Linked DNA regions of Homo sapiens: all the other regions are linked to region 1. Evidence: fine-mapped expression QTL. A gene starts in region 1. Each other region holds a variant in brackets. All regions are shown on one strand. Distances are from middle to middle.

The links. PIP is the estimated chance that this variant, and not a neighbour inherited with it, causes the effect. A credible set is the group of variants that fine-mapping cannot tell apart.
Region 2: its variant is the best candidate, but not a certain one, in a credible set for the expression of RAD23B in whole blood (TOPMed, PIP 0.58).
Region 3: its variant is the best candidate, but not a certain one, in a credible set for the expression of RAD23B in whole blood (TOPMed, PIP 0.87).
Region 4: its variant is the best candidate, but not a certain one, in a credible set for the expression of RAD23B in cerebellar hemisphere (GTEx, PIP 0.58).
Region 5: its variant is the best candidate, but not a certain one, in a credible set for the expression of RAD23B in whole blood (INTERVAL, PIP 0.90).

What each region holds. Positions count from the first base shown.
Region 1 is chr9:107,280,705-107,286,900 of GRCh38, forward strand. It overlaps RAD23B (RAD23 nucleotide excision repair protein B), which reads left to right and starts at 2,575. Exons shown (of 10, transcript NM_002874.5): 1 at 2,575-2,991. The coding sequence starts at 2,926. RefSeq lists an enhancer at 1,904-2,063 and a silencer at 2,554-3,113.
Region 2 is chr9:107,229,905-107,236,100 of GRCh38, forward strand. LOC107987110 (a long non-coding RNA gene) reads left to right here. Exons shown (of 3, transcript XR_001746873.2): 3 at 1,731-2,235. Among named protein-coding and RNA genes, the nearest start is that of RAD23B, 50 kb to the right of the region's middle. The variant A/G (reference allele first, on the strand shown) is at 3,837.
Region 3 is chr9:107,302,099-107,308,294 of GRCh38, forward strand. It overlaps RAD23B (RAD23 nucleotide excision repair protein B), which reads left to right. Exons shown (of 10, transcript NM_002874.5): 3 at 1-16; 4 at 4,281-4,549. Among named protein-coding and RNA genes, the nearest start is that of RAD23B, 22 kb to the left of the region's middle. The variant G/A (reference allele first, on the strand shown) is at 3,059.
Region 4 is chr9:107,383,839-107,390,034 of GRCh38, forward strand. No RefSeq gene overlaps it. Among named protein-coding and RNA genes, the nearest start is that of LINC01509, 80 kb to the right of the region's middle. The variant G/C (reference allele first, on the strand shown) is at 3,733.
Region 5 is chr9:107,316,628-107,322,823 of GRCh38, forward strand. RAD23B (RAD23 nucleotide excision repair protein B) reads left to right here. Exons shown (of 10, transcript NM_002874.5): 6 at 2,125-2,252; 7 at 5,356-5,491. Among named protein-coding and RNA genes, the nearest start is that of RAD23B, 36 kb to the left of the region's middle. The variant G/A (reference allele first, on the strand shown) is at 2,750.

The sequences.
Region 1 (6,196 bases):
ATGGATGACAGTGAATGAGTGGGTGAGAGAAGGAAAGAGATGAGGTCAGAGAAACTGGCAGGAGTCAGATCATGTGGGCTCTCCAAGGCCACGTAAAGAGTTTGACTTTTATTCTAAAATGTAATGAGATACTAAGCATAGATACAACATGCTCTGATTTATGGGTTTAAAAGGCCACTCTGGCTGCTGGGGAGGCTGTTGGGGGTAAAGGGTGGAAGCGGAGAGACCAGGTGGGACGCAGGTGAAGGATAATGATGGATTAGCTTAGGGCTGTAGAAGTAGAAACGGTGAAAAAAGGCTGACTTGGGGATATACTTTGGAGAATAAGGTTGACAGGGCTTGATAATGAATTGCATGTGGTGGTTGGGAGTGGGTGAGTGAGGGAAGAGAGTTATCAGGGATGAAGACCAGATTTTTGGTCTGAGCACCTGGGTAGACTGTGAGGCCATAAACTAAGATGGGGGAAAACTGGGAGAGGGGCAGTTTGCAGGGGGGAAGGAGGTCCAGAGAGAAATCAATTGTTCTCTTTGGCCACATTAAGTTTCAGAGGCTTGTTACATATTCAGGTGAAGATATTGCTTAGGCAATTGGCTAACTCTATAGCTAAGGGGAAAGGTCCAGGCTGGAGGTATTTCAAAACAAGGGCCAAGATGAAACCACCTGGTGACTACGAGTAGATACAGGAAGACAGAGGGCAGAAGATTGCATATTTAATTACTATGAAGGGAGTTATGTGTTGTGAAAGGGGAAATATCAGGTTAGTGGAGGGAGAAGCTGGTCAAGGAAAGTTTCTTGAAAACATTAAACCCAAGCTCCTTGAAGCCACTGAAAACCAAGCAGTGACATTGTATTAGTGAGGATGCTGTCCCAGAGAAGTAATTTGTAATTGGTCATAGAGCTAGTGGCCTGACTAGAACTGTGTTTTATACTTGAACTAAATCAAATGTGCCACAGGCACAGTATAAAACAGAGGAGAATAGCTGGGAGCGATGGCTCACATATAATCCCAGCACTTTGGGACTCCGAAGCAGGAGGATTACTTGAGCCCAGGAGTTCAAGACCAGCCCTGGCAACATAGGGAGAACATATCTGTACAAAAAAATAAAATATCAGCTGGGAAGCAGTGGTGTGTGTCTGTGGTCCCAGCTACTCAAGAGGCTGAGGTGGAAGGATCTCTTGAGCTCAGGAGGTTGACGCTGCAGTGAGCCGTGTTTGTGCTACAGCGCTCCAGCGTGGATGACAGTCAGACGCTTTAAAAAAATAAGAATAATCTTTAAAACAAAAAACAGGGGAATAGTGGCACACCCTGGGACACAGACTCTGGAGTCATTCTGTCTGAGGTCACATTGTGGATTTGCCATTTACTACTGGCTGGGTTATTCCAGGTGCATTACTCAACATCTCTGTACTTCAGTTTTCTATCTGTAAACGGACTTTCTACTAATAGCTAACTGCTTACAGACTGTTTATCATGATTTTACATACAATATTCAACTTCCCCCTCCAATAATCAATGAGTGACATTATTATTCTCATTCTACTGCTGAGGATCCAGAAGCACATTCACCCATTCCACAAATATTTACCGTGCACCTGCAATGTGCCAGGCATGTTCATGGGTGAACACAGCAAAATCTTTGCCTCTGTGCAGCTTCAGTCTGGGGTTCACAGGAAAAGGAGAAAGATGATAAACAAGAGATACGTACATTACAGGGTAATTATAAAGGGATACCCGCTATACAAGAAAACAGAGCAGGATAACAGAGATAGGAAGTTGGGATTTTAAGTAAGGCAGCCAGAACAGACCTCACCAAGAAGGCAATATCTGAGCAAGGATGTTAAGGGAGCCGGGGGCAACCTAGAATCCACCAGTGGGGAGAGTAAGGCGACTCGGAGAAAGGCGAGGGGCTAATGCATCCGTTCTAATAACTCTGACTTTAACTCGGGGCTAGATGGGGAAACACTGGACAGTTCTACCCCGAGGTGTGACAGAACTTGACCTTCATTTTAAATCGGTCCATCTGTTTAGGCTAGTGAGAAAAAACAATATTTGAACTCGGGCAGTCCAGCTCAGGAGTCTGTGCTGTCGGGATTAAAGAATCAGTCGACACCCCCAGGGCTGAGCCCCGCAGCAAGCGCCCCGCGGGTGCTGGCCCCCAGACTGTGGTTACCGCCATCCTTTCACTTAAACTCCGCCCCGATTACTCCCCCGCTCCAGGGCTCCGCATCCACTCTGCCGGGTCTCCACGAAGCGCTTCCCGGGCTACACATTGCGTAACTTCGGCAGCCGGGCGGAGCCTGCACAGAGGCGGAGCCGCGGCAGCCGGAGAGAACGCCCCAGCAATAGTCGCTAGGAGGAAGCCCCAGGAGCCCTTGCCGCCCACGGAACGCGCCTGCGTAATCCGGGTCCAGGCCGCCGACATTCCAGGACCGCCTTCCGCCCCGCCCCCAATTCTGGGGCGGAGTCCTCGGCCGCGCCGGCGCAAAGCGTCGCCGCACCCCACGCCTGCGCGCTTCGCCCGCCCGGCCCCATCCCCCCAGGTTTTTCGCGTGGGGGAGGGGGCACGTCTCGGCGAGTCACGATGATGGCGGCCACCATCCTGTGGTGAGCTAGCGGATTCCCTGCTTGTCTCGCCGACCCCCTCGCGCCTTCTGCAGACTCCGTGGCTGGCGCTCGGCGCGTGAGGAAGCACGGCGGCCCGAGTTCGCGGGGAAGGCCGCAGTCGCGGAGGCAGCGGCGCGGTCCGGGGCACGGGCTGGGGGAGAGGCCGCTCCGCTGGGCGAATGTGACAAGCCCCCACCCCCACCGCCTTCCTCCCCAGAGCGCGAGGAGCGCGGGCGACCCCGGGGCCCCGCCAGGCCACAGACCCCGCCCAGCGGCCAGCACCCGGCGCAGGCCCGGCAGCCGAGCTGCGCGGCGGCACCATGCAGGTCACCCTGAAGACCCTCCAGCAGCAGACCTTCAAGATAGACATTGACCCCGAGGAGACGGTATGCGCGCGGGCCGGGGGCAGGGGCAGCCGCGTGCGGGCCGCGGGGAGCGCCAGGAGCTCGTGGGGCCGGGCGGCGCGCTCCAGCGGGGGAAGCCCCGGAGGGCGCGATGAGGGCCCTGGGTCCTGGTGCCGGCCCTGGCGGCGTACAGCGGAGCCGATCCTCCTGTCTTGGCCGTGGGCTTTGTGGCAGGAGAATGGGGAAGCAGTGGCCGGACGCCGAAGGCCTGGTGGCAGATGGCGTGGAGCGCACGCCCGCGGGCCTGGGCCTAGGAGCTCGTGCTAGCGGGGCCGGAGGGGGATGGGAAGGTCCAGGCCGTCTCAGCCGTAGAGCCTGGCTTTCTGGTATGGGTGCACAGGTGGGGGAGGGAGACGTAGGCGTCGCCACTACCCCTGTGTGGACCTGGTTAGCCGCTTAGTTCCCAGAGTTGGTAACCCGAGAAGATGAGCCTTAAGAAAAAAAAAAGTATCAGGTTCCGTTTGCCGCCGAGAGGTGAGTGGTGGTGAAAATGAATTTGCCCCTTTCCCCTCAGAATTGTTTACCCTTTTATTTGCAAATGAATCGTTCTGCTGCCTTCCTCCCGCCACCAAACCCACACCCTTGCGTAGATTGCACTTTGAGGCCTCTTTGGTGATGGTTTTAGCTGTTAGAGCTCTTCACAGCCATCCAGGCTCAAACTAAACTTCAGATTTAACGGGTTTTCTGTGTTAGAAATCTTGGAATTGTAGGAGTTGGAACGCTGCAGCCACCCTCCCCCGATGCCCCAAACAGTAGCAGTTCAAGGGGGAAAAAAGAAAAAAAAAACAAAAAACAACAACTTTGAATCCTTTCTGCAGTTAAAGCCTTAAACATTTCAGAAGTCCACATTATACATTTTTCTGTATTTGTGACTGCATAAAGAGACACTGTTGAGGTCAGTACAACTTTATGCCAAGAATCTAAAAACGCTGTGAGTGTAAATTTACTGCTTATGTTCGGAAATACACCGCCAAGATTGTCATAATACTAAGTTTAAACCAGCAGCTTTCTGCCCAACTCTATTTTTAAAAGTAGTTGATTCTATTTTGGGTGGAGATCAGGGGCTTTGGTGTTAAGTAGACCTGAGTTCCATTTGTGGTTTTGTAACTTATTTGCTATGACCTTGGGCAAATTACGGTTAGTTTCATTCTCTGTATAATAGGGATAATACCTGCCTTGCAGAGATGTGAAGATTAGATGGTATGTATTTACTTGGTGGTCAGTAAATGGAATCGATTATTTAAACAATGGATTCCTTTGAGTGGAGATACAGTGTTACGTTTTACTTATCTCATTTAATCTTAAGTTTTGTACATCTTTAATTTTTTAAGAAACAGCCTTTTTGGGATTTTGGTACAAAATTATTTGATTTCAGAATATTTATATGTGGGTGTATGCTGTGTGATTAACTTCTTAAAAGTACAGGAGATCTCAGTTATACATGAGAAACTTTTCAGTGTCCTCAGAAGTAATTGACAATACCCTGTGGACTGACAGTACTAATAGAATCTAATTTCTCTTGAATATTTCTTTACTGCTTAATGTGCATTAATAAGTTGAAGGGTGAAAGTTAAAATGGAGTTTGTTTGATGATTTCAGACAAACTACGTAAAATGCCTATTTGACTTTGGTTCTTTGTGGTAACAAATGTTGGTGCCCCAGTAACTTAATCGGCTTATAATACTCAGTTAATTTCAGAATTATTGAAAGCTAAAGAAATATTGTGGCTTTTTGGTAAATATGTGTGGGTGTATTGAAGTTATGCAGTGACTCTGTCAACAGCTCCACTGAAGTATTTACGTTCTGTAAGATTTGTTTAGCGTTTTAGGCACTTTACGCATACTGTTAACTGAGAGTCAATGCTGTACCTGTGTTTGTGTGAATTCTTAACTATTTTTGCTGTTTTCCAGTTTATTTCCAAGGAAAAGTAATATGTTATACGTCTGGAAGTATATTTTTGAAAAGCCCATTGTTAGGGAGCGGTTTCTACAGCTTTCGCTGCTATTTATATAAATATAATTTTGTTGCTGTTAGTATAAAAAAACTAATACTGTTAGTCCGGGGCAAGAAATTAAAGCATTTCCTCTGGGATATATGGAACGTTTGCATTTAATGACTTGTCAGTTTTTATTTTAATGACTTTAGGAAATATTTTTCATGACAACTGTTTCAATTCTATGTTTGTAGTGGGTTTTAATTAGTATGTGTTTTTGATACGACACCTTAGAATTCCAGTAAGAAAATAAACAATGAAAATTATGTTTTCTAGGGCAACGCTAAGTGTCCTGTTTCTAAGTTGTTGTGAGAACGAGGTAACCAAGGATATTAGAAATAGATCTAAAATAAGATAGGATCTTATTGAGACCTGTTTTTGGTCTGGTCACAGATTTGTCCTTGTTTAATTTTTACCTAGAAGGAACCAAGGAAATTAAGTAACTTACGTAGCCAGTATAGCAACTCTTGTGAGCTTGAGATGAGCATGAGCAAAAATGGAAGAAAGGACTGTGAGATAAGTGGAATCATGGGAATGATTCATTTGTTGAACAAGTAAATGTTTAGTGAGCTTTGCTGGCAGGACTGGAGGAGTACAGGGACCTGTAGAACGTGGTCTGGGGCTTCTGGGAGCCTTATTGACTTAGTCAAAGCTCATTGGCTATAGAGTAGGGGGATATACAAAATGGAAAGAGCAAGATAATTTGTTTTAAGGTGTTTTTATTTGCCCTAGTTTTAACAAAACTTTCTTAGACTTATTAGGCATTTTGTACCATTTACTTGACTATTACTGTGATACATTACATGACCACTGCCTTTAGTGTTAATCTTTGCAAAGATCTTTTTGTTTCTACAATTGTAATGCAAGCCTTCTTATAAAATATTCAAACAATATAGAAACAAAATGAGAAGGTGGTATGTGTGGGGTAGGGAGACCATTGCTAGGAGATTTTCTTCATTATGTGCTTTTTTTGTTTTTTACTGTAAAAATTGTGGGAGACTTTTAAGTAGCCTACATATTAAAGCATTTTGAGATGTGTGATAGAGCACTGCTTCTCTGAAATTCTTAAAAATTCTGAAGTTTAGGCTGGGTGTGGTGGCTCATGCCTGTAATCCCAGCACTTTGGGAGGCCGAGGTGGGCGGATCACAAGGTCAGGAGATCGAGACCATCCTGGTTAACACGGTGAAACCCCG
Region 2 (6,196 bases), 51 kb before region 1:
GGTAGATATTGCATGAATGAAGGACAAGAAATTTGGAAAAATACTGCATTGTCTACTGTTTTCAGAAATATTTATGCAGGGTAATTTTAATGTCTGCCATTTTCCCTTGGGTCAGGGAAGCCACTGTATGATATTATAATTGCTTTGATTTGTATCGTGTTACCTACTAGGTTCAAGACACATTCAGGAGTGTTCTGAAAAACATAATAGAAATTGACAGAAAAAAGTGACTGAATAGACTTTCAGAAAATATGAAAGATTGAATACAGAAGTTTGTTTTCCCTTTTCCAAGCCCCTCTAAAATGACAGGAAAAATAAAAATAAAACATGGATCCCCCAAAACAAAGGAAACAGAAAGGGAAATGACCACAGATGATAGACAGCCACAAAATTTTGGACATGGCAACCCAAGAGGAGAGAGGGATGAGGCTACAGGAGGAGGAGTCAACCAGAAGAAGCAAACCAATTTATAGCTCAGAATCCCCAGAAAGTGTCAGGAATTGAGGATGCCAGCTGCCTCTGAAGGCAAATTGAAAACAAGACAATCAATTAAAAATCTTTGTAAGGAGTAGGCAAATTCTGAGGTCTCCTAATCAACCCTTTGTGGCCAGGTAGCCAACTCTCCCTACTCCAGCAGAGCACCAAAGATGTCCTCCCTGGAGATGTGGATGAATAGGTATTCCAGACTTGGGAACACCAGACACAGCTGAGGTACCACAATTAAATGGAGAAACTAAGCAAAAAATCACATTATAAACAAAAAATCTGACCCAACTCCACGCCCTTCTTTATGTCAATTCTCAGAAATACTGCATTGTCATTAAAGCTTAGAACTGTAGACAGGAGAGAGAAAACTAGTCATAAATAACTAGAAATAAGAATAGCATCATCTTCTCAATAGCAACAACGGCAGCTTGATCTCAATTTACTCTGATTCAATCCCACCCTCACACACCTCAAAATACTTGGTTCTGTGGCTTTGACTTCATGCATAGACTCCTATAAAATACTAGTGCTTGCCTCTTAAAGCATAGCATATCCATCCAGCCCCTGTGACCAAAGAAATGGTCTTGGCTCTCATCCTAAAGAGATATTAAGAAGCAGCCTTAACAAAGGAAAAGACCAGCATGGATTGTGCCCCTAGACCTTCTATTCTTTGGATAGTACTTTACCCTTAATTCCCTGTTCTCCTCTTTTGATTATAACCTAATTGGCAACTGTAGCAGCCAATCTCAGATATGTTCTTGATTTCTGCAATGTAGCCAAAGGCGGATTTCATCACATTCTCCTTTTTTTACTTTTTGCTGGTGATGGAAGGAGCAATTGGTTCATGAGCTTGGTTTGATGATTAAATAAATGGCTTGGTGACATTTGGAGTGTCAGCTTTCCAGATCTGCAATCACCACAAAACTGCAGACACAGATAACGAACCTGGGGTGGAGTTGCTGGGTTCAGAGACCATAGATTGGATATTACCTCACCATTAGAACATCAGTCTTGATTTCCCTTTCTTGGCTGCATTTAGAGGCTAGATGCCCGCTCCTCCACAACTATGTAATGGAGACAAGAAGGTGGTACAAAGAAAGTCCACCACAGTTTATGGAGCCTGCAGAAGCCAGTGTGCTTGACACACACTGTCATCCTGTTGTTGCAAGTATTCTTTTTATAGTGGAGGAGGAGGACGAAGAGGAGGAGATCACATTTTAAAAAGAATGATCTCATCTTTTTAGGTGAGAAGATGGAGAAGATGAATACATTTGCTTTCAGCAAACCAATGGAAGTCCATTTGCATGATCTGAAAAGGAAAATGAGAAGCTAATTTTTCTATACAAGGCAGAATTTAAGAAATACAATTCCTAAGGACTCCAGTGGATACAGCTCTGGTTCCTGGACTTCGTGTTTTGGCTTGGTCTTTCTGCTTTTTCAATTTTGTCACTGGTAAGACTGGCCCCACCTCACCCATGAGGAGCACATTTTCAAGGTTAAAATGCTGAGTTAATTAGAGAAAGTGGTGTTATTAACTGAATGGCAATAGAGAAGCAGCAGCAATTGAGGGAAAGGAGATGATAAGTTGTTTTGGGGCATGGTGAATTTGAGATATCTTGCAGAACATTCAGATCAAGGTTCTTATGACCCCTGAAGTTGTCACGTGTTAACCAGAAAACAGATCTGCCAGGTGCGGTGGTTCACACCTGTAATCCCAACACATTGGGAGGTCGAGGCGGGAAGATCACTTGAGGCCAGAAGTTCAAGACCAGCCTGGCCAACATGGCAAAACCTTGTCTCTACTAAAAATGCAAAAAATTAGCCTGGTGTGGTGGCAGGTGCCTGTAATCCCAGCTACTTGGGAGGCTGAGGCATGATAATCATTTGAACCTGGGAGGCAAAGGTTGCAGTGAGCCAAGATTGCACCACTGCTCTCCAGCCTGGGCAACAGAGTAAGAGTCTGCCTCAAAAAATAAAATAAAATAAAATAAAATAAAATAAAATAAAATAAAATAAAATAAAATAAAGGAAAAGAAAACTGGGATCTGAGCTAGGGCATCAATCAAGTTTAGTCTGGTAGATTTGATTAGAGGATAAAATTAAAGTCTTAATCTTTTATAAAACCATCAAGGGATAAGGTAAAGAGTTTTTTCTAAAAAAAAAAAAAAAAAAGGCTGTTTCAGTCAGGCCACAGCTAGATTATGCTACAGTAACAAACAACCCCAAAATCTCAGTGACTTAATACATGACAGTTTTATTTCTCATCCATTCTTTATGTCAAGAGCTGACTATGAGTTCTGCTCAGCATCATCTCGCCCTGGGATTTGAGCTGATGAGCAAACCACCCACCTGGAACATTGCTAGTTTCTACAGCAGAAAAAAAGGAGGATCTCACGCTGGCAATTAGATATTCTAGCCCAGATATGACAGACATTATCTTGCTCATATATCAAAGGCCAGGAGTCATCACATAGCCCCACTCAACCACCAAGGAGGCAGGAAATATCATCCAACCATGAGTCTGGAAAAAGGCGTGCTGCCATCAGTGAGCCATGTTAATAACTACTTTAAGGCCCAGGGCAGAATTCGTATAAACATGCTGCTTCAGAGATGTAAGAACTAAGAGTTAGCATAGAAAGAAGTTAATGAAAGAACCATCAGACATAGGAGGAGGACCAAAAAAGCAAGAGTCATGGATGACCAGGAGGAAGAAGAGACAGTGAAGAAAGATGCAAGTGATCAATGCAGTAGTTTCTGATAGGAAGGTGCACCATGCACAGTTAAGACAGACAGATTTAAGAAGGCCAACCAGCTGTCTCACAAGGGGAGCTTCAAAATGGCACTCATCTCCTTGATGGATTTCTCAGGATCGCAGTTTCCTTGCCTCAGCCCAACCCTAACACCACATCTAACCTTAGTTATTATGATGCACACGTGGGGTTGCCTGTTGCCACTGAACATTCTAAATGTCTAATCCAAACTCTCTTGCTCTGGTGTCATTCTTATTAAGCAAACTACTGTTTATGGTTTGGCTTCCCTTGAATATCTATCTTCGGTAAGAGAAAATGTTAGTCATACAGACTTAGAGCATTTCAGACCACATGACAACTCCACTATTAATTGGGTAAGTTTAAAACCCAGTATTCTGATACTTCAGTGTGATGAACTTGGTATATATGAGTCTCCCGCCAAATGGTTCCACCCCTGATATGCAGGCAAATATAAGGCCCATGAGCTTTATGTGTAATATCTGATTTTTCTATGAGCATTTAGCAGTAAAGAAAAAGCCAATAAAGGCAAATTTCCTATTGAAGAGAGACAGAGGGGAGAATAAAAAGGAGAATTCAAGA[A/G]GGGGGAGAGCTGGATAACAAGGAATTAAGCAATAAATGAAATAGGGAAAACAGAGACCATGAGTGGAGACTGCAATTTCAGACATTTAAAGAGCTTGGTGGCCTTTTTGTTTTTGCTGAATTTAAAATGGGACTGCAGGTCCAGTGCGGTTGCTCACCCCTGTAATCCCAACACTTTGGGAGGCCAAGGAAGGCAGATCACTTGCGGTCAGAGGTTCGAAACCAGCCTGGCCAACATAGTGAAACCCTGTCTCTACTAAAAATACAAAAATTAGCTGGGCATTGTGGCCGATGCCTGTAATCCCAGTTACTTGGGAGGCTGAGGCAGGAGAATCACTTGAACCTGGGAGGCAGAGGTTGCAGTGAGCCAAGGTCGCACCACTGCACTCCAGCCTGGGCAACAGAGCGAGACTCCATCTCAAAAAATAAATTAATTAATTAAGTAAAATAAAATGGGACTGTAATTGTTTACAGATTACAAAGTGAGTATAATTTGGCAAAAAATTTAAGGTTATTGATGGTGGGATGAAAATACCAAACCTGATTACATGCCAGAAGACAAATGTGTATCAGATTTTTCTATTTCTAAAAATAAGCATGCTATGAATTGCTACATAAATTATATTAGGGTAAGATTATATACTACAATACTGTATACAATAATAGGCATTATAATATAATAAATTATAACTCATTATAAACTGATACAATACACTTCAGTCATCAAAACTAGATTGTTAGTGAGTATTACACGACACAGGAAAAAAAGATGGCTGCTATATAATCTTCAGGGAGTAAAACAGCAGGATTTTTTCAGAGTATGTGCACTATTTTATCAGCTTTGAAAAGTAGAAAAGACTGGGAAATCTTAAGAATGAGTATGGAAGTGACAGTGTGATTATGACTGATTTTTATTTTATTCTTTATACTTCCCTGTGATATTCAAATTTTCTATAATGAACTTAGAGTTCTTTTATGATAATGTAAATTATATAGAGAAGCATGCTTCCATTAGCAATTCTGTTTTTAAATTATTTTTGTTAGTTATACTGGAATTAAAAACTCATTCAATACATTAAATGTAACATTCTTAAATGCTGAGGGTATATATACTCCCAGCTGCTTTTAAAATGAAGTTGTAATTAGATGGAATAAGAGAATTGAGACTACAAAAGCTCTCTGAAGGTAATAGCAAAGGCGTAAAATACCCTATTTCAAATATTGTGAAATACTGTATGAATGGCAATCTTTGGGATGTATTTTACAAAATACCACACATATAAATTAAAACTTGACTTTAGATCCGCTCGTAGGTTTTAATACAAATAAGCAAACCAATAATGAAAATAAGATTATAGAGGCAACAGTGCACCTGCCAAGGAGAATATATTTTCTTTTCTTTTTTCAAGACAGAGTCTCACTCTGACACCCAGGCTGGAGTGCAGTGACACAATCACAGCTCACTGCAGCCTCAATCTCCAGAGCTCAAGTGATCCTCCTACCTCAGCCTCCAAGTATCTGGGACTGTAGGCACATGCCACCACGCCTGGCTAATTTTTTTTTATTTTTTATTTTTTAGGGATGGTGTTTCACTATGCTGCCCAGGCAGGTCTCAAACTCCGGGACTCATGTGATCTTCCCACCTTGGCCTCCTGAAGTGCTGGGATTACAGGCTTGAGCCACCACACTGGGCCTATACCATTTTCAAATAGTGGAGCCATCCATTACATATTTGTAACATATGTGTTGATTAACAATTAATACTCTTAGTTCCAAGCTCCATTTGGCAATATAAAATAAATGGAGGGTTTGCTCACATCTGATGGATATGACTTTCTCTGTGAAGACTGAAGCAAGATCATCTGAGTGTAAGGAGGCAGTATAAGTTCGGAAATTAAGGAAGGTAGAGATGCTTAAGGTAGCTTTGCAGAGAATAGGAGCGCATGTCCACCAGACAGATGTTATAGAATTGCCATGGCTTGAAGTTTGAAACCCAGCTGTGGATGATTGAGATGATTCATGTATTTAATGATACTAATAGAATGATACCCGTGAGCAAGCTGGATTCCTAGGATGCAAAAAGAAAATAGCTTTATTCTTCACCTTCAACTGCCCATTTGAATCTTCTTTTAGGCCAGTTCTTTTCCCCTCCCCAACTTCAAATGAAATAATAGAAAGGTCTTTGGACTCTCTGATCATCTCAGATAATAAAATGCCCTCTGGTCACTTCAGTTCCAAACCACAACCTCGGTTTATAAATTAATCTGCCCAGAAACTCCCAACTTCATCGTAGGCTTGGCAATGCTTTAGACTAAGGGGCCTATAGTGGGGAATGAGATACCCATCTCTGTGTTCCCTTT
Region 3 (6,196 bases), 21 kb after region 1:
GGTTATGGTGACCAAAGTAAGTTTCAACCTCATTCTGTATATCTTTATGCATGTAGGTCTTTTTAAAAATGATGATCACAAGTCCACACAATGGACACAGTTTATACACATCCATAGTGGTGTACACTTAACTACTATGAAAGGTTTTTAAGAATTTACCTTAAGTGAAACATAAAGTTATTAATGTTTTACATTAATTACACATTAAACTATAATATAGTTTTAATAAAATTTTATGTAAATTAAAACAATTGAAAAATAAAATGTCATGTTAAAATTATTTTTGCTACAGTAGTGAAATCATTATATAATTCTTTTAAAATGTCTTTATAAGTGGAATAAATGTTTATTCTGTAGTTTTTGTAAGCTTGCCTTAAATAGACCTGCTAAATTACGTACTAGTCCTAACAGATTCCTCAAGACAGAAAAGGCATGAAAGCTTATTATTACAGTGATAGTTCTTAGTGAAAGAATATGTTTTTAGAAACTAAAAAAAGGGAAAAGATAACTAAAGAAATGATGGAATGATTTTTATGAGGAAGTTTTTTTTGTTTTTGTTTTGTTTTTTTTTTTTTGAGACGGAGTCTCGCTCTGTTGCCCAGGCTGGAGCGCAGTGACGCTGTCTTGGCTCACTACAAGCTCTGTCTCCCGGGTTCATGCCATTCTCCTGCCTCAGCCTCCCTAGTAGCTGGGACTACAGGCGCATGCCACCACGCCCGGCTAATTTTTTTGTATTTTTAGTAGAGACAGGGTTTCACCGTGTTAGCCAGGATGGTCTCGATTTCCTGACCTCGTGATCCGCCCGCCTCGGCCTCCCAAAGTGCTGGGATTACAGGCGTGAGCCACCGCGCCCAGCCTGGAAGTTTTAAACAGATACTTTTTTGTGATTTAGTAGGCTGGAATGTATTTGGAACAATTTATAAAATTAAATTTTTTTTAAAGCAGAGAATGAACATGGATTTTTTTAAGAGACTATTTATATACTTGTTTATTTAAAGATATATAATGCAGTGTAGAATTAAGAGACAAATGGAGAAGTGGTACTCATGACATTCATTTTTAGGATTGGATTGTCATAATCTGAGAAAGAACAGTGTTACTTGTAGCACTGAAAATGAGTTTAAATCACTAATTGAAACCACTTCATCAAAGGCCAAAAGTGGATTAAATGTGGGTTTTTTCTCAAAGTCACAAAATAGTTAATAGTAATAGAAAATAGAGTCGAAGAAATAAATTCTAATTACCACATGCTTTTGTACTGGGAGCAAGCAGCTAAATAGTTTACAAGTGTTGAACATTTTTTAATTCATTAAGAACCATGTTGATTTTGCTATACTTAAGAACTTAAGTCATTATATGTTAAGTTTAAAAACAAGCAGAATCGTGAGGAAACCTTGTATCATCTAGGTTTTTTTATTCAACTGTGGTAAAATATAACAAACTTCCAGTTTAATCATTTTAAGTGTACAGTTCAATAACATTATAGTTACATTGTTTTGCAGCTATCACCATCATATAAGTGGAATCCTATGGTATTTGTCTTTTTGTGACTGGCTTATTTCACTTAGCATAATGTCATTGAGGTTCATCTGTCTATGTTATAGCTTGTGCCAGAATTTGCTGAACTTTTAAGACTGAATACTATCCTATTTTCCTATCTAGTTTTAGCATACATAGTACATAATGGGAAATGTGATAGCCACACATTTAAATATGTTTTGTTACTGGTCTTAGTTTCTTTTAATATTACAGTGATCCTGACTGTTTAGAACACAAGAATTAAGCAGAAAAAGTCTCAATAGGTGCGTGTGTTTGAGGAATAGATACTTGAAGCCTATCATTATATTGCATACAGTCCTTTTGTTTTTCCTTAAAGTCTTTTATTCCTAATATTACATAGGATTCTAATGATATTTATGATTGTTTTATTTGAAGTTAATAGAGGACAACTATGAAAAGGGAGGGAATGCTGCTACAGTAAGGCATTATGGAAGCACTGAGAAATGACCTTATTAATACAAAGAAGGGAAAGGAAAAAGCTATTAAGATCAAAAGCAAGAATAAAAACTAAAAAGCAGAGAAGGGCTTGGTACTGTTTAGAATAAAGTATAAGTAGCTGTTCTTGGCAGTAGGAACCTTGAAGGGAAGTTACATTGCAATATTATTTTGATAACAATTAAGGAAAATATTAAATGAGTATACCACTTTTAAAAATACATTTTTATCTAGATTGGTTATTATAAAGTTTTGGTGCTTAAGACTCTAAATTTTCACCTTTGTGAAGCTCCAGTTTATCCAGAATAACTGAAGATCCAGAATGATCTCAGGATTTCAGCTCATTTTAGTTTTAGAACAGTAATAATCTGCAGAATATTATATTGGCTGTTAAGAAAGTTAAGCTAAATAGGAAAAGAAGGGAGTAATGCTACTAGTATTTTTTAAAAACCTATCACCTTTCACTAACCTTTTTCCTAGTGTCTTCTTTATTAGTTCAAATCAAAAAGACAAGGCAGCTCATTGGTTTTAGAGTTTGTTTATGCCTGTGGCAAATTATGTTGAATTTAAGCCTTGTCTTCCACTAAAACAGCTACCTTTTGTCCTTGGGAAAGTTATGAACTAAACAGGTAGCGAGCATTGAGAGGCCTTAGGAGAAGACTAAAAATCATGTATGATTTTTACACATGTACAGTTGACCCTTGAACACCACTGAGCTTAGGAGTGCTGGCCTCTCCCCTACAGTCAGAAATCTGCATATACCTTTTGACTTGCCCAAAACTTACCTACTAATAGCCTACTCTTGACCAGAAGCCTTACTGATAACGTAAACAGTGGATTAATACATGTTTTATATGTTACATGTATGATATACTGTATTAAAGTAAGCTAGAGAAACTATTAAGAAAATCATGGCCAGGTGTGGTGGCTGATGCCTGTAATCCCATCGCCTTGGGAGGCCAAGGTGGGCGGATCGCTTGAGCTCAGGTGTTGGAGACCTGTCTGGGTAACATGGCGAAACCTTGTCTCTACAAAAAAAAAAAATACAAAAATTTAGCAGGGA[G/A]TGGTAGTGTGAGCCCGTAGTCCCAGCTACCTGGTGTTGGGGGCGGGGGCAGTGGCTGAGGCAGGAGCCTTGGGAGGTTGAGGCTGCAGTGAGCTGTGATCATACCACTGCACTCCAGTCTGGGCGATAGAGTGAGAACCTCTCTCAAAAAGAAACAAAAGAAAATCACGAGAGAGAATATTTTTAGTGTTCATTAAGTGTAAGTGGATCATCATAAAGGTCTTCATCCTTGTCTTCACACTGAATAGGCTGAGAAAGAGAAAGGGTTGGTATTGCGGTCTCAAGGTGGCAGAGATGGAGGAGGTAGAAGGAGAGGCAGGCACACTCAGTGTAACTTATATTGAAAAAAATTATCATGTAAGTGGACCCAGTGCAGTTCAAACCCTTGTTGTTCAAGGGTCAACTAATTGTTTTTTTGCTCTGTGGGAAGCTTTATGGCTCTATTTCCAGTTCAGAAAGTGCTGAGCGTGTGGAGGTAACTTAATTTGGCCTTTATTTTTCTGCTTAATTACATATATGTCTGAAAGTATTGTGAACCTTTTTGTACTTGGATCTGTTGATTTGTAGTCAATTTTGGGATTTTCCTCCCTCTTCTAAAAATACAGTACAACAGAATATTTGACATGTTTATAAATAAACATTTATACTGCCATTTCAAGAACATTATTTTGGGCTGGATGTAGTAGTTTATGCCTGTAATCCTAGCGCTTTGGGAGCCCGTGGTGGGAGGATTGCTTCAGGCCCGGAGTTCAAGACCAGCCTGGGCAAGGTAGCAAGACCCTGTCTTTAAAATTAAAGAAAATTATTTTATTAATGCTTTTAAGTGGTATTAGGTACCTTAAAGTTACAACTTAGGTACATAAAGTTTTTTTGGGAAAATGATACGGTTTATATCTATATATATATATATATATATCTATATATCTATATATATTTCAAATTTTTTATTTTATATTAACTTGATATGAAGATGGAAATTGTTGGGTAAAATTAATTGTGGTTGATAGTTAAGATTAACATACGCTGTCATGAGCTTTGAAAGAGTAACCATGAGTCAGATTGTTAATATTGATCATTTATTGTGTCATTTTACAAAATTATTTTCAAGTTATAGGTTGTTATTAGTGCTATGTTTGTGGCATCCTGTAACGGTACAGTCTAATTAGAGATCAGGCAGTATGTAGTATTTTATTGTAATTATTTTGTCTTTTAATGTGTTTAGCCCAAAGCAGTGTCCACACCAGCACCAGCTACAACTCAGCAGTCAGCTCCTGCCAGCACTACAGCAGTTACTTCCTCCACCACCACAACTGTGGCTCAGGCTCCAACCCCTGTCCCTGCCTTGGCCCCCACTTCCACACCTGCATCCATCACTCCAGCATCAGCGACAGCATCTTCTGAACCTGCACCTGCTAGTGCAGCTAAACAAGAGAAGCCTGCAGAAAAGCCAGCAGAGACACCAGTGGCTACTAGCCCAACAGCAACTGACAGGTAGGAACTGGATTCTAGGACATTCTATCTCAAAATCCGTGTTTAACAGGAACTTCATGCATTTATTTTGATTATTGTTTTGATCAAACCGACTATATCTATTACGTTAAGCTTTTTTTAAATGTTTGACTAAAACATATGCTGCGTCTGTTTTGATAGCTTACTAAGGAGAATATAAGTACAAATTTTCATAATCAGATTTCTGTACTCTGTTGATTTGGGCAGGGTGGGGGGCAGTGGAAAGGAGAAAGCAGGTGAAAGTCATTTTTTTTTTTTTGAGTAGAAACGTTAGGAAATACAAATAACCAAAATGAATAAGGATTACATCATGACATTGCCACCCTGATCATCATTTGTACTTGATCTGTATTCTTTGTGGTCATTGTCATATATATCATAAGCATCCTTCCATGTTAGTAAATCTTTCCCGTAGTTATATAGCATTGTGTTTGGTTCTGACATTTGTTAGCTCTTGTAACCTGAACCTATGGACTATTTCAGTTTTTCACTGTTGTATCTGTATCTTTGTGAACTTGTGAGAAATTCAGGCTTCTGCCTGTGTGGATCTTTAGGGGAAAAAAAAGGAAAAGAGTGTTGAGATATTTGAGGAGCAAGAAATAATTTCTTGTGGGAAGTTGACAGCAGAGACACCTCAACTAAGTGGCTGCTTAGGCAGTTAGGATTATTGAGCAGTTTAAGACAAGACTTTTGTTTTTCTCCCCAGACGATCAGGTAAAATGACCAAAGCAAATGCTTAAGTCAGAGTTCTCTTGGTTGGAAATCATACAGCACAATTCCTTGATCTAAGAGCATGAGTTATATTATGACCAGCCTTCACTGGCACTACAGCTGTTTGTATTTTGTGACTTAGTGCAACTCAGGACCTCAGAGGCAGTAGTTATATGATCTTTGGAGTCAGAATCAGACACAGTGGAAAACTATGCAGTGACTGGAAGGGTTTACAGACATGGAAAGGGGTTAAGATATATATGACAATGATCAGAAAGATATAGTTGTGATCCTTCATTTTAGTGTTCTGCCTTTGAGTGTGGTTTCTGTGTCTGACTTAGTCAACCATGTTTGGAGGAGTCTGAGCCACCTGGTTCATTGCTTACTTGGGGGTCTCTTTCTAAATAATTGATTCCCTAAGAAGACAACATGGGTTTAGGCAATAGAATATTTGCCCTGTTACTTGCCTAGAACACTGCTTTAAGCATTCTATGACACCATTGCCTAACTTGATCCATCTTTCCCATGTACAACTAGAAATGCATTCAACCATCTTATCCTAGTGGATACCACCTAGAGTCAGGTTAAGCTGTTACATCAAAGGGCTGTTGATCAGGTCTGTATATGAGAGGGAACTTACGCATTTAAAAAATTGGTTTACTAAAGCACTTAAATATTACAAACTTAATATGTCTTAAGTCAGCACAATACATCTTATTCTCTTAATTGCTTTAAGCTCCTTTTTAAAAAAAAAAAGCTTACAGTGTGAGAATTTTAGAGTTGATCAATACATTTTAATGTGCTAATGCCATCAATTTAAATTTCTTTCTTCATTAACTCCATTTTTTTTTTTTTTTTTGGAGACAGAGTCTTGCTCTGCCACCCAGGCAGGAGTGCAGTGGCGTGACCTCGGCTCAC
Region 4 (6,196 bases), 100 kb after region 1:
AAATTCTGTGGACTTTGCCCTTGAAGGTGTGAAGGAGGTTCACAAGCACTTTCAGACCAGTGCCATACCTTTAAAGGGGCTATCTGGCCATGCTTTCTTCTCTCCAAAGGCACACTGGTGGCTTTGTCTCCTTCATTCATTCATCCATTTGTTTACTAGGTGTATGTGGAGAGCTTCTTATGTGCTAGACACCATTCTATGCATGAGCTATACAATGGCAAACAGGACAGTGAATCCTGATTGCTAATGAAGAAGTTAGGCAATAACTCCCCCAAATGTAAACAAGAAATGATCAGATAGTAATAACAGCTATGCAGAGAATTAAAATATGAGCTATGATAATTGCTGGCGTATGGATATTTTAGATTCGTGGCCAAGGAAGGCTTCTCTGAGAAGGTAGCACTTAATTGATGACAAGAAAGACTGACCTAGGAAAACCAGGAGAAGAATATTCTAAAGCATTAACAGCACGCTCGAGGACTCTCAGGCAGAAACTCACTTGGTAGGGATAAGGCACGAAGAAAGGCTAAAGTGTGGCTGGAGGGTGGTGGCCAAGGGTGAGAGCAGAATGAGATGAGGTTGGATCATGGGAGGCTTCGTGGAAGAGGGTAAGAAGTTTAGGATTTTATTCAAAGTGGAGTGGAAAGTCATTGGAAGACTTTAAGTAAGAAAGTGATTTAATCAGATTCATGTTTTTAGAAAGATCCTTCTAGCTGCCATATGGCAAATGGATTGCAGAGATATTGGAAACAGAAACAGCAGTTATAAGAACACTGCAGTGATCCAGGCAGTGATGACCAGGGATTCAATTAGAGTGTTGGCAATGAAGAAGTAGATAAGTGGGTGTCGGGATATCTTTTGGAGGCAGAAGTTACAATACTTGCTGAAGGATTGGTCATGGTGCCTAGTAAAACAGAGAAATCAAGGATAATTCTAGATTTTTGGCTTGAGGGTAACCAGGTGCTGTTTACTTTGGTGGAGAAAATTGGAGTAGAAGCAAACTTGGGGGGAGGGGAGTGGATTAATAATCTTATTAATTTTTTTACAAGTAAAAATGTCAAACAAAGAGTTGATTATATGAGCCCGGATTTGCAGAGAGAGCTCAAAGCAAGAATAGCAAGTTTGAAAATCTCCATACATGGATGGTATTCAAACCAGGAGATTGGTGGGCTCACCCAGGTGGATTGTAGATGCAGAAGAGAAGAGCTCAGGATTGCATCCTAGGTCTTCTAAAGTTGAGAGGTTAAGTAGAAAATAAAGAATAACAAAAAAGAGACTGAGAAGGAACAGCCAGTGAAGCAGGAGGAACATCAACAAGTGAGATTTCATAAAAGCCAGGAGAAGAAAATGTTTCGAGAAGAGGGGCACACAGGTAGGCTTTGTGGAATGTCACTAAAACATCGAGTGTGATAAGAACTAAGAAAAGGTGAGCCGGGCATGGTGGCTCATGCCTGTAATCCAGCACTTTGGGAGGCTGAGGTGGATGGATCATGAGGTCAAGAGTTCGAGACCAGCCTGGCCAACATAGTGATACCCCTTCTCTACTAAAAATACAAAAATTAGCCGGGCATGGTGGCGTGCGCCTGTAATCCCAGCTACTCGGGAGGCTGAGACAGGAGAATCACTTGAACCCAGGAGATGGAGGTTGCAGTGAGCCAAGATCGCACCACTGCACTCCAGCCCAGGAAACAGAGCGAGACTCTGTCTCAAAAAAAAAAAAAAAAAAAAGAACTAAGAAAAGGCCATTGGATCTGGCAACAGAGGGATCACTGGGTTTTATCACAGACAGTGTGAATGTTAAAGACATTGCCATTTGAAGCCCAGTGGGACTGGGTTTGAATTTTAGTTCTACCACTTACTAGCTGTGAGAGCTTAGATGTGCTACTTAACCTGTCTATAGCTTTCGATAATGACATTTACATTATTGAATTGTAAAGTTTGAGGGAGGTAAAGTTTATGAAATTGCAAGCACTTAATAGGCACTCATTGGTTTCCATTTTTTAGGCAGCGTAGGAAAGTCAGGGACCTTGGGATAGCCCCAGGGAAGAGGTCCTTGTGTGCTTGGATTCTGTTTTTGAAGCTGCAGTAGTGTGTGTTGTCAAAGCAAAGCAAAGAGTTATTGACCCAGAGATCTGAGAGCTGGAGCAGCTGACTCTGTCCAAGAAGGAGATGAGGGCAGATTTCTACGCTTAGGTCCCACACTGAGCTCTTCTTGCTTTTAGGCCTGACCTCAAGCATCCTTGCTAATGAAACCCTAGGTCATGAGGTTTCCCTCTAGTCAATCACTATGCTCGCTGTAGTTTAGCTCTGGGCTGAGCAGGATGAATTGAGGCTAAGAGTGACTGCCTCTGTGCCTAAAACCTTGAGCACTGTGTTCTGAGGAAAATTTGTGTTTACAGTAATGCCCCTGTGACTTGGATGAGTTTCCAGGACTTGTGAGACATCCCAGACCCTGTGCTAAGAAAACCATGGTTCCTACAGCCCTTGCATGGGGAAAGTGGATCAAATACAGCAGGGGGAGCTCATTTCAGGGCCATATTTGTGCTGTCTTCCTCCTTGTTGCTGTGACTATGGAATGGAAGAAGGCAGAAACAAGGGGTCATTATCTACAGGGCAGTGAGCAAGTGTTGGGTTTAGTTCTTGTCCCAAATGGTCAGGTCCACAGTCATCCAGTTCTTAGTCACAGGAGTTACAGGTAATGCCAAGGGCTGAGTAGGGAAACTGCTAAGAGATAGAAATGAAACTGAGTGCCAAGAAAGCAGAGAACACCTAGGACAGGGAGGGCAAATAAGGGCACACTGGCAGCCACCCCACCCTCTTGGGACCAGGCGAGACATGCTAATCTATCACAACTTCTTCCTGCTGAAACCTCTGACTCTACCCCTAATTCTAACCTGAACACATCCCAACATAGAGCTCCATGTAGCCACTTTCAATAATTTGGCCTTGATTTACAAGACAGACTTAGTATAATATTCTTGACTTAGGACTATTTTACTTATCTCTCTAACTGGCACCGAATTAACTTTTTATAGCCTGAGTACAGGAATGCCCCATGGTGTTTTTGTTTTGTTTTGTTTTGTTTTCTAAGACAGAGTCTCGCTCTATCACCCAGGCTGGAGTGCAGTGGCGCGATCTCAGCTCACTGCAACCTCTGCCTCCTGGGTTCAAGGGATTCTCGTGCCTCAGCCTCCCAAGTAGCTGGAACTACAAGCACGTGCCACCACACCCGGCTAATTTTTGTATTTTTAGTAGAGACGGAGTTTCACCATGTGGGCCAGGCTGGTCTCAAACTCCTGGCCTCATATGATCCGCCCACCTTGGCCTCCCAAAGTGTTGGGATTACAGGCGTGAGCCACTGCGCTGGGCCTTCCATGGTGTTTTAAATAGCACTTGACCATCATCTTTGATCCTTCATTATATTATTTTAGGAGATGATTGGGTTTTGGAATTCACCTTTCATGGGCATCTAGAGCAATTCTTTTCAACCTTCACTCTGCATATATGATCTGGGTAAATGCAGAGTCTGATTCAGTAGGTGTGGGGTGAGACCTGTGTTTGTGTATTGCTAACAAGCTCCTAGGTGGTACCAATGCAACTGAACTGTTGTCCACACTTTGAGCAGCAAGGAAATAGACTCACTGGAGAGGAGAGGAAATTTTCAGACAAATAAGAGCCTAATAGAGCTCACAGTGTTCTAGAGAAAACTTGGCAAGATCCTGCAGCCACCTG[G/C]ACAAGCAATCTGGGATGAGGTAACTCTCCAGGCAGACCCATGTTATGAAAGTAGCTTGAGGAGAATACACACTCCGACCTCCCATCACCCTATGTGCAAGTTGCAGTTCGTGAGCAGGGGTGGGTGATGGCTGCTGGGCAGCTTGCCTAGTCACCTGGGAGAAGAGGCAGAACGGGGGCTGGCAGAAGACTTCTTAGAGTTAACTGGGATCAGGACAGGATAAGGGGGAAACCATAGTCTCCTAGGGGTGAGGACGGTAGCCAGGGGGCTATGCCCTTTACATTGGTGGAGCCACAGTAAACCAACTAGAGACAACCTCTGTAACTGAGTTCCCTCCCTCCCTCCTTTCCTCCCTCCTTTGCTCCCTCCCTTCCTTCCTTCCTTCCTTCCTGTTATTATTTTTTTGAGACAGGGTCTCACTCTGTCATCCAGGCTGGAGTGCAGTGATAATCACAGCTCACTGCAGCCTCAACCTCCGGGGCTCAAGCGATCCTCCTTCCTCAGTCCCTCACACTTCCAACCCCTGGGGTTTTGCCAGCCCAAGCTGTTCTCAAAGTCCTGGGCTCAATTGATCCACCCACCTCGGCCTCCCAAAGTGCTGGGATTACAGGCATGAGCCACCATGCCTGGCTCTTATTTTCCTTCTCACTCAGTTTTCTGCAGAGCGTATCAGTTAGGGCAGCCTCTCTGCCAGAGAGGAGAAATTGGTTTAGAATTGGTTTGTTTCTTGGTTCTTTCCATGTACATATTTCATCTTGGGTAAAACTCTGGCTAGACTTAAAGAATATTTAGATAAGTGCCTGAGGAGTAGAGTTATAGTTGGTTATTAAAGAGGGTAGAGAAGAAGGTTGGAGAAGAGCTACCACCACTCAGACATGGGCCTCCTTGAGGACCCTCATACAGGGTTGTGCCAATGTGGCAGGATGGTGTGATAGAAGAGGTACAGTGCCAGATTTAAATCTCAACTCCTTACTTATTACCTCTATGGCCTTAAGAAAGTGACTCAACTTCTCTGAATTTTGTTTTCCTCATCTATAAAATATTATCTCCTTGCAGAGCTAAATGTCAGAATTAGGTTGGGCACAGTGGCTCATTCCTGTCATCCCAGCACTTTGGAAGGCCAAGGCAGGTGGATCACTTGAGGTCAGGAGTTTGAGACCAGCCTGGCCAACATGGCAAAACCCCGTTTCTACTAAAGATGCAAAAACTAGCCAGGCATGGTGGCACATGCCTGTAGTTACAGCTACTAGGGAGGCTGAGACAGGAGAATCTCTTGAACCTGGGAGGCAGAGGTTGCAGTGAGCCAAGATCGTGCACTGCACTCCAGCCTGGGCAAAAAACAAACAAACAAAAACAAAACAAAACAAAAAACGAATTAAATGAGGCAATGGATGTACGAGCACTGAACATTTTATGAAGGCAAGGCCTGCCTTATCCCCGGCACTCACATATGGTGGCTCCCTTCCCAGCTCCACTGTGCACCTTGCCTCTAACAGCACAGTCCCAGCTGTTTCTGAAAAGCTGCGCAAGAGAGCAGCTGACTTCACCCAGTCTCTGCTGGACCACCTTCCTCTTCCATCCCCCTGGCAGCTAAGAGGAAACACATGTGTCTCCTCAACTGTAAAATGGAGATGGTGAGGTCCACTCCCAGGATCTTGTAAGAGTATCATGAAGCCCTGGATTTCTAAGTATCTATGGTGGTCATATATCATGGTATGACCAGAATAGTCCCAGTGCATATCTGATGTCCTAGTGTCCTGTTTAGCAATTTGGCTCTAATTTGGATAATAAAGTATAAACTTAAAAACTTTAAAGAGCTGTGCGAATACCAAGCAGTGTACATTGTATTTATGGGTGGAAGCTATTGCTGCTAACTGTAAACTAAGTCAGGAAAAGAAAGGAGTTAAAATGGTTTTCTTCTCACCCAAAATACTTAACTGGGCCCCCTTTTCCAACCCTTGCATTGTGGGTACAAGAGGAAACCCAAGGAGTTTGGATGGCTGAAGGGAGCCTCAGGAGCAGGGAAATCCCAGCAGAGGGGCACACTCCCAGTTCTTCCTCCACCTGTGTCCACCATCAGCCACCCACTCCCTCCCAACCCTGCCCTTTGGCCACTGACTCATTCCCATTCAGGCCTAGACCTGTGCTCGGTGCATAGTCTCCACTCTCCCTCTGCCAGTGAGGATGGCAAATATTGTCCTGAGAATGTGAAACCCACATGGGCCTCTCAGAGGCCCGATCCTGGCTCGGTCTCCTGGATTGCTCAAGCATTCCTCCTCTTCCTCCCCCTCTCCTCCTTCTTCTCTCTCTCTCTCTCTCACCTCTTATGGAAGCTATTTGGTGATTGAGCAATGCTCTGGAATAACTAGGTCAAGTCAGGCCTGTGCAGGGAGGAGGAGACAATTGGACTGTGTAGGTGGCTGTGTATCAAGCAGCAGCCAATACACCATTAACCAAACAGGA
Region 5 (6,196 bases), 36 kb after region 1:
AAATGCTTAATCTGTTTGTGATATTTGGGGGTTTTTAGCTATTAAACACCTTTATTTTTGAAAATTCTGCAGAAAAAAATTATTCAACAGATACTCGGTTTCAGCTGTGTATCAGGGAAACATGCAGAATGACATGGTTTCCTGCACAGTCAAACTTGCATTCAGTTGGGGCAAGAAAAAAATAATGAAACATTAAAAAAAAAAAAAGATAAGTGATATTAACACAAAGGGCTTCCCTAAAGAAAAAACAGAAGGCTACCTAGGATGACTAGGCAATGCCTTTTAAATATGGAACTGAAGCATGTTGAAGGAACTGGCCATCTAAGATGGCTGGTGTTGTGTAAAGGCCCTGGGGCAGGAAAAGGTGTGGCCTGCTGAAGTAACACCGGGAAGATGAGTGTGGTGGGTGGAGGATTGTTGAGGGCTGGGAGCCAGAAATAAAATGAGGGGTTTTGCGCACACGCGTGCGTGTGTGTGTGTGTGTGTGTGTGTGTTTACTTGACTTTTGCAACTGGCTGAAGAACAGATTATAGATATGGAGACAAGAGTTGGAAACAGGGTGTAATCCCATCTAGAGACTGTTGTGGGCTTGTCTTCAGTGATGACAGTAGAGAATGAAGAGATGGGTTTGGGGTGTAATTTAGAGATAGGACCTACCAGGTATGCTGGTAAGTGAGGTGTGGAAGGAAGAGGAAAAGGAACTGAAATCACCAGGGTTTTTGTCCAAGTGCTTAGGTAAATAGAGGTGCCATTTGTTTAAAGAGAGCAGACAGACAATGGTGGGACACATTTGAGAGGGAAATCTGAATTGCAATTAGTTGAGGAATGAGTGGAATGTGAGAAAGTGGACACATGTTCAATAGCTATGGCTGTGATGAGAAGACAGCAGATGGTTCCTCAAAGAGGAATTAGGATGAAGTCAAAGGTGGGAGGTGTGTTTTTGTTTTAGAGTGAAATATAGGACATAGTTAACTACTGACCCAGGATAATTACACAGAGGGGTAAAGATGTTGGTGGAGAAGAGGGAGGATAACCAAATCCAGTTTGGTTTGAGTGTGAGGCAACAATAAAGGTAATGGTCCCCAGAACACAAGCAGAAGAAAGGATAGTTTTAAGTGAGGTAAGTTTATGAGGAAAATAGGTTTCATTTATTCAGAGTGTTGTCTGTATTGAGAGGAGGGAGCATAGGAGTCTGTAAGAAGTGACTTGGAATATTAGCGCTTTGGGCATTTTACCAACTTTGTATAGTGTACAAGATTTTAACTTTCTAGCTCCTAACCTCTCTTTCCCCCGTTTCAGTTATATAAGGTATCAAAGGGAAACTGTGAACTTGTTCCATCGGAGTTGATGGTTTGAAATACCATCCCTTCCCCAGCATGTTTTCAGAATTTGGTGTCTCTTCTTACCAGTTGCCTTCCCTGACCTCCTGCTAATTCTCCCTTACCTTCATACCTCATTTTTCTATTGTACTCTGAAACATATTATATGAGTTTCCTGTTGCTACTGTAGTAAGTTACCACAAACTTATTGGTGTAGAACAACACAGATTAACTGTCTTCTAGTACTGTAGGTTAGAAGTGTGACACAGGGCTCACTGTACTAAAATCAGGGAGCCGGCATTCCTTTTTGGAGACTCCGGGGAAGAATTTTTTTCCTGATCCTGTCCTACCATACCTTGGCTGGTAGCCCCTTTCTGCATCTTCAAAGGCAACAGCATAACATCTCTCATCCTGGTTTTGTCTCCTCCTCCTCACACCTGTTTCTCTGACCCTCTCATCTGCCTCCTCCTACTACTATTAAGGATTCATGTCATTACACTGGACCCACCTGGATAATCCAGAATGAGGTCTCTGTCTTAAAGTCAGCTGATTAGCAACCTTAATTTTATCTATAACCGCAATTTCCCTTTGCCTTGTAACCTATTTATAGGTTCCAGGGATCAAACCAGAGGGCATCTTTGGGGGACCATTACCTACTACATATATGTTGTAATTTATACTGTTACTCATCTTTGTATTCCCAGCATAGTAGTTCCTGAAATGTTGTATACATGAATCAATAAATGTATAGAGAATGCTTATTTATTAAATGTTCCTTTTTTTCCCCTCCACCCTCCCTTTTTAGTGACGGGTCAGTCTTACGAGAATATGGTAACTGAGATCATGTCAATGGGCTATGAACGAGAGCAAGTAATTGCAGCCCTGAGAGCCAGTTTCAACAACCCTGACAGAGCAGTGGAGTATCTTTTAATGGTGAGAAATATGTTTTACTTTACTCCATTCTGTTGTTTAAGATTAAAATCTCAAAGAAACAGATTTTAAAGGACCAGTTCACTTGTCACTGATATATGCTAGATGATATACATAATGCTTTTTTTTTTCTAGTATGTTTGTATTTTGTGTTAATAAAATGTAACCTTTTTTAATCTAATGGTCCAACATTGTAGTAGCTTTTTAGGTGCCACTATGCGTGAATTATTCAGAACAAAAATTTCTTTTTTCTTTTTTTTTTTTTTTTTTTTGAGACGGAGTCTCGCTCTGTCGCCCAGACTGGAGTGCAGTGGCATGATCTCTGCTCACCACAAGCTCCACCTCCCAGGTTCACGCCTTTCTCCTGCCTCAGCCTCCTAAGTAGCTGGGACCACAGGCGCCTGCCACCATGCTCGGCTAATTTTTTTGTATTTTTAGTAAGATGGGATTTCACCATGTTAGCCAGGATGGTCTTGATCTCCTGACCTCGTGATCCGCCC[G/A]CCTCAGCCTCCCAAAGTGCTGGGATTACAGGTGTGAGCCACCGTGCCTGGCCAAAATTTCAAGCTTGAGAATCCGGGCCAAATTCTTTTGCTTATACTGTGTATATTTCTGTAATAAGTTGCCAGCTTTTTAAAAACTGGGAAATTTCACATAAAAGTACAGATTTCTGGTTTAACTGGACAACTTTGATCCCAGATTTTTGCAAGGGATTAAGGAAAATATTTTAGATCGTGGAATCTAATTCATTATCCTCTGATTCACTCTGTTACCAACGTAACATCATGCATTTAATGAATGATGTTACTACCTGGTTCCGTTGGCATTTGAATTTGTTTTTATAGTCAGTAGGAGTTGAGGGACTTTTTGAATAAAGTATTCTTTTTTTTACTGGTAATGGGAGTTTTTGAGAAATAGGTTGTTGTGGACATCAACTGAAACCCTTGGTATTAAGATGAAAGTCTGCTAGTTTTACAGATGTGACACAGGCTAAAGTAATTGAATTAAGTTTTTTAAAATCTCAGACTTCTATAATTGTCTGGTGTTTTGGAGTATTATCAAAGTCTGAATTGCCCTAAATATCATCTTAAAGTTGCCTGATTCTAACCCTTTTGGGAATTACATCCACAGTTTAACCCATTCCTTTGTGTCTAGGTTGTACTTCTGTTAAAAACTCCTTTCAGGTAGCTAGCTAGTTTCAGAAGAGTCAGTTATAAGCCTCATAACTGTACTCTGCCTCCACCATTTATTTGCCTATGCCTTTGCATGTGAAGTTCACAAAACCTTTTTCTTAGCATATTATTTTATCTTTTTAAATTCACTTTTTCATTATCTTCTTGAGTAGTGTCTTTAAATGCTGGCAGTTTATCCAGTTTGTTTGGAATTGTGGAATTAATAATTGTTGTGAATTTGTTTGGTGAGGAGTGTGTACCCTAAACAGATTGTATAAAAGTATTAGCTTTTATGGAGTGGCTTTCATTTACACCTGATTTAGAATTCTGTATAAGTTCAACAGTATCAGTTATTTTGATCTAATAGATGTGGAGTTTTGAGGTATAAAAATACAGAATCATTGTTACCAAATGCTAAAACTGCTGTAGAGCATCAAATGCAAATAAATAGATGATACATGAGTTCATCAAAAACAATTTATAACTAAAATGTTTTTTATATATTTGCTCTTTGTTTCATAGACTGAAGGGGAAAAGTTGCTTTTAACTGTTACTAGTTAAGAGATAGGTTAAGGTGAACGGATGGAAAGAAGAAATGTTGAGCATTTATATAAGAGGCTATGTAATGTGTGAGAATAGAGGTCGATCTATAGCAATAAAGATGAACTTTTTAGTTTAATAAAAGAGAATTTGATGGACGCCCTGGATCCTAAATTTGTATGTAGTTTGTTAGCACTTAAATAACTGCCCATCTGAGTTAAGGGTTTGCGTTGGTTAACTCATTCAAAAACATTGGTTTTAATGCCTGGAGTGACATCTAATCCATGCAGCCATTTTCCTGCTGTGTTACTCTTCATCCTTTATATGTTGTTGCTTTTGGCTTCTGGTTTATTAGGGAATGGAAGCATTTATCATCTTATTCAATTGTAATACTTGGTTCTTTATTCTCTTCAAAATCTATAAGAACTTGATAAAGACTTTTTAAAAATTTTAAATGACAAGTCTATCAATCATGTGCATCAAAATAGGTGTCCCAAAAGAGTTTAGTGCATGCAGTTTTAAGCTCTTAATAACTTTAAAAGATAAGTACTATAAACTTACAAAAGGCATCACCTAAAAACTAAATGGTTTCAATTTCTTTTATATCGATTTTATGAATTTTGAAAAATTAAATTTTTTGAGATACTTTATCTCATTTTTTGAGATACTTTAAGTATCTCATTTATGAGATACTTTAAGTATCTCATTTATGAGATACTTTGACACTTTAAGAAACACTTCACTGAAAAGTACCTCAAATTTATGAGATACTTTCTGAGTGACACTTTCTCAGTACCATGGATCAGTAGGGGAGATCCTCCTGCCTGGCCACTGTGTACCTGGTCTGTATCCATTAGATATTTTTTCCCCCAGGAGTCATTTCAGAACTGTCAAGTGTGCATCAAAACCTCTTTTTGGATTATCTTAAGCTAGAGTTGCAAACTCAATCCTTTTTATCACTGAGTAACAGCTGATAAAGATTTCTAAGAAGTTAAAAAGTCAACTGAACTAATAGGTAGCACAAAAACCTTTGGTTGTGTTCAGTTTTAAGAAGGTACATGTATCAATATTTTTCAAATTTGATGCTAATTACGTGTGCCTGGTAGGTGTCTTATTGAACAACACAGAGAATATTTCCATCATCATGGTAAGTTCTGTTGGACAGTGCTGCTTTGCATTATTATAGCAATGTGGGTTTTTCTATAATGCACCCAGGTCATTTCTAATCTAATTTGAATCCATGCAGCTTAATAATCCTTTACTTTTAATTGAAGCAGACATCTGTTTGATGCTTTTGAAAATCAAACAAGATGTTAAATAGACTATAAATCTTTTACTCTGTATAATATTTAATTTTGCATGATGGGATATCTTAAAGCTTGGAAATTCTATTACAGGGAATCCCTGGAGATAGAGAAAGTCAGGCTGTGGTTGACCCCCCTCAAGCAGCTAGTACTGGGGCTCCTCAGTCTTCAGCAGTGGCTGCAGCTGCAGCAACTACGACAGCAACAACTACAACAACAAGTTCTGGAGGTAAAGCGGAATCTTCTGGATGGGGAGGGAATGGCCCTGAATTTTTAGTGTAAAATAATTTAACCTGAAATACTTCAGAAATGACGTTCATTCCCAGAGCAGTCGAATAATTCGTTAAGTTCTCTCTTCACTAATGTTTGAGAAAGGCCCAAAAGAAACTTTCCCAAGTGGATGTAAAAGGTATCCTTGCTGATATTAAACATCAGTGTTGCAGTTTTGCCGAAGGGCATATTCTGTTTTATTTGTTTTAAGGAAAAGATGCTTTCCAGTTTGTATTTAGTGTTACTTTCTGATGCCATTCAGAATGGTTTGCTCACTTTGTCTCTTACTCTCTCCATAAATGTTACAAAGTGTATGTAATTTCAAAGCCAGCAGGATTTTAGTAATTATACAGCCAAGGAAATGAAACCGTGAGAGGTTTAAAACCTTGTATCTAGAGGAGAAAGCAAAGCTTGAATTGAAGTCTCTTTACTGGGGTGCTGACCATACCCCACACATTGCTATAGGTCTGACTACAGAGCAAAGCCTGGAACCTGCGGTCAGCTTAGGAATTACGCAGTGTTCTCCTTCGTTCGTTCTTCTGTATATTAATAAAGTAATTTAAACTGTTGATCTTGAAAAGGCCATTCTTCCATGCATTTCCTAGCTCTGATAATGATAGTCACCTCTGGTTGACAAAGGTCACTCAGTGCTTTGTGTACAGTC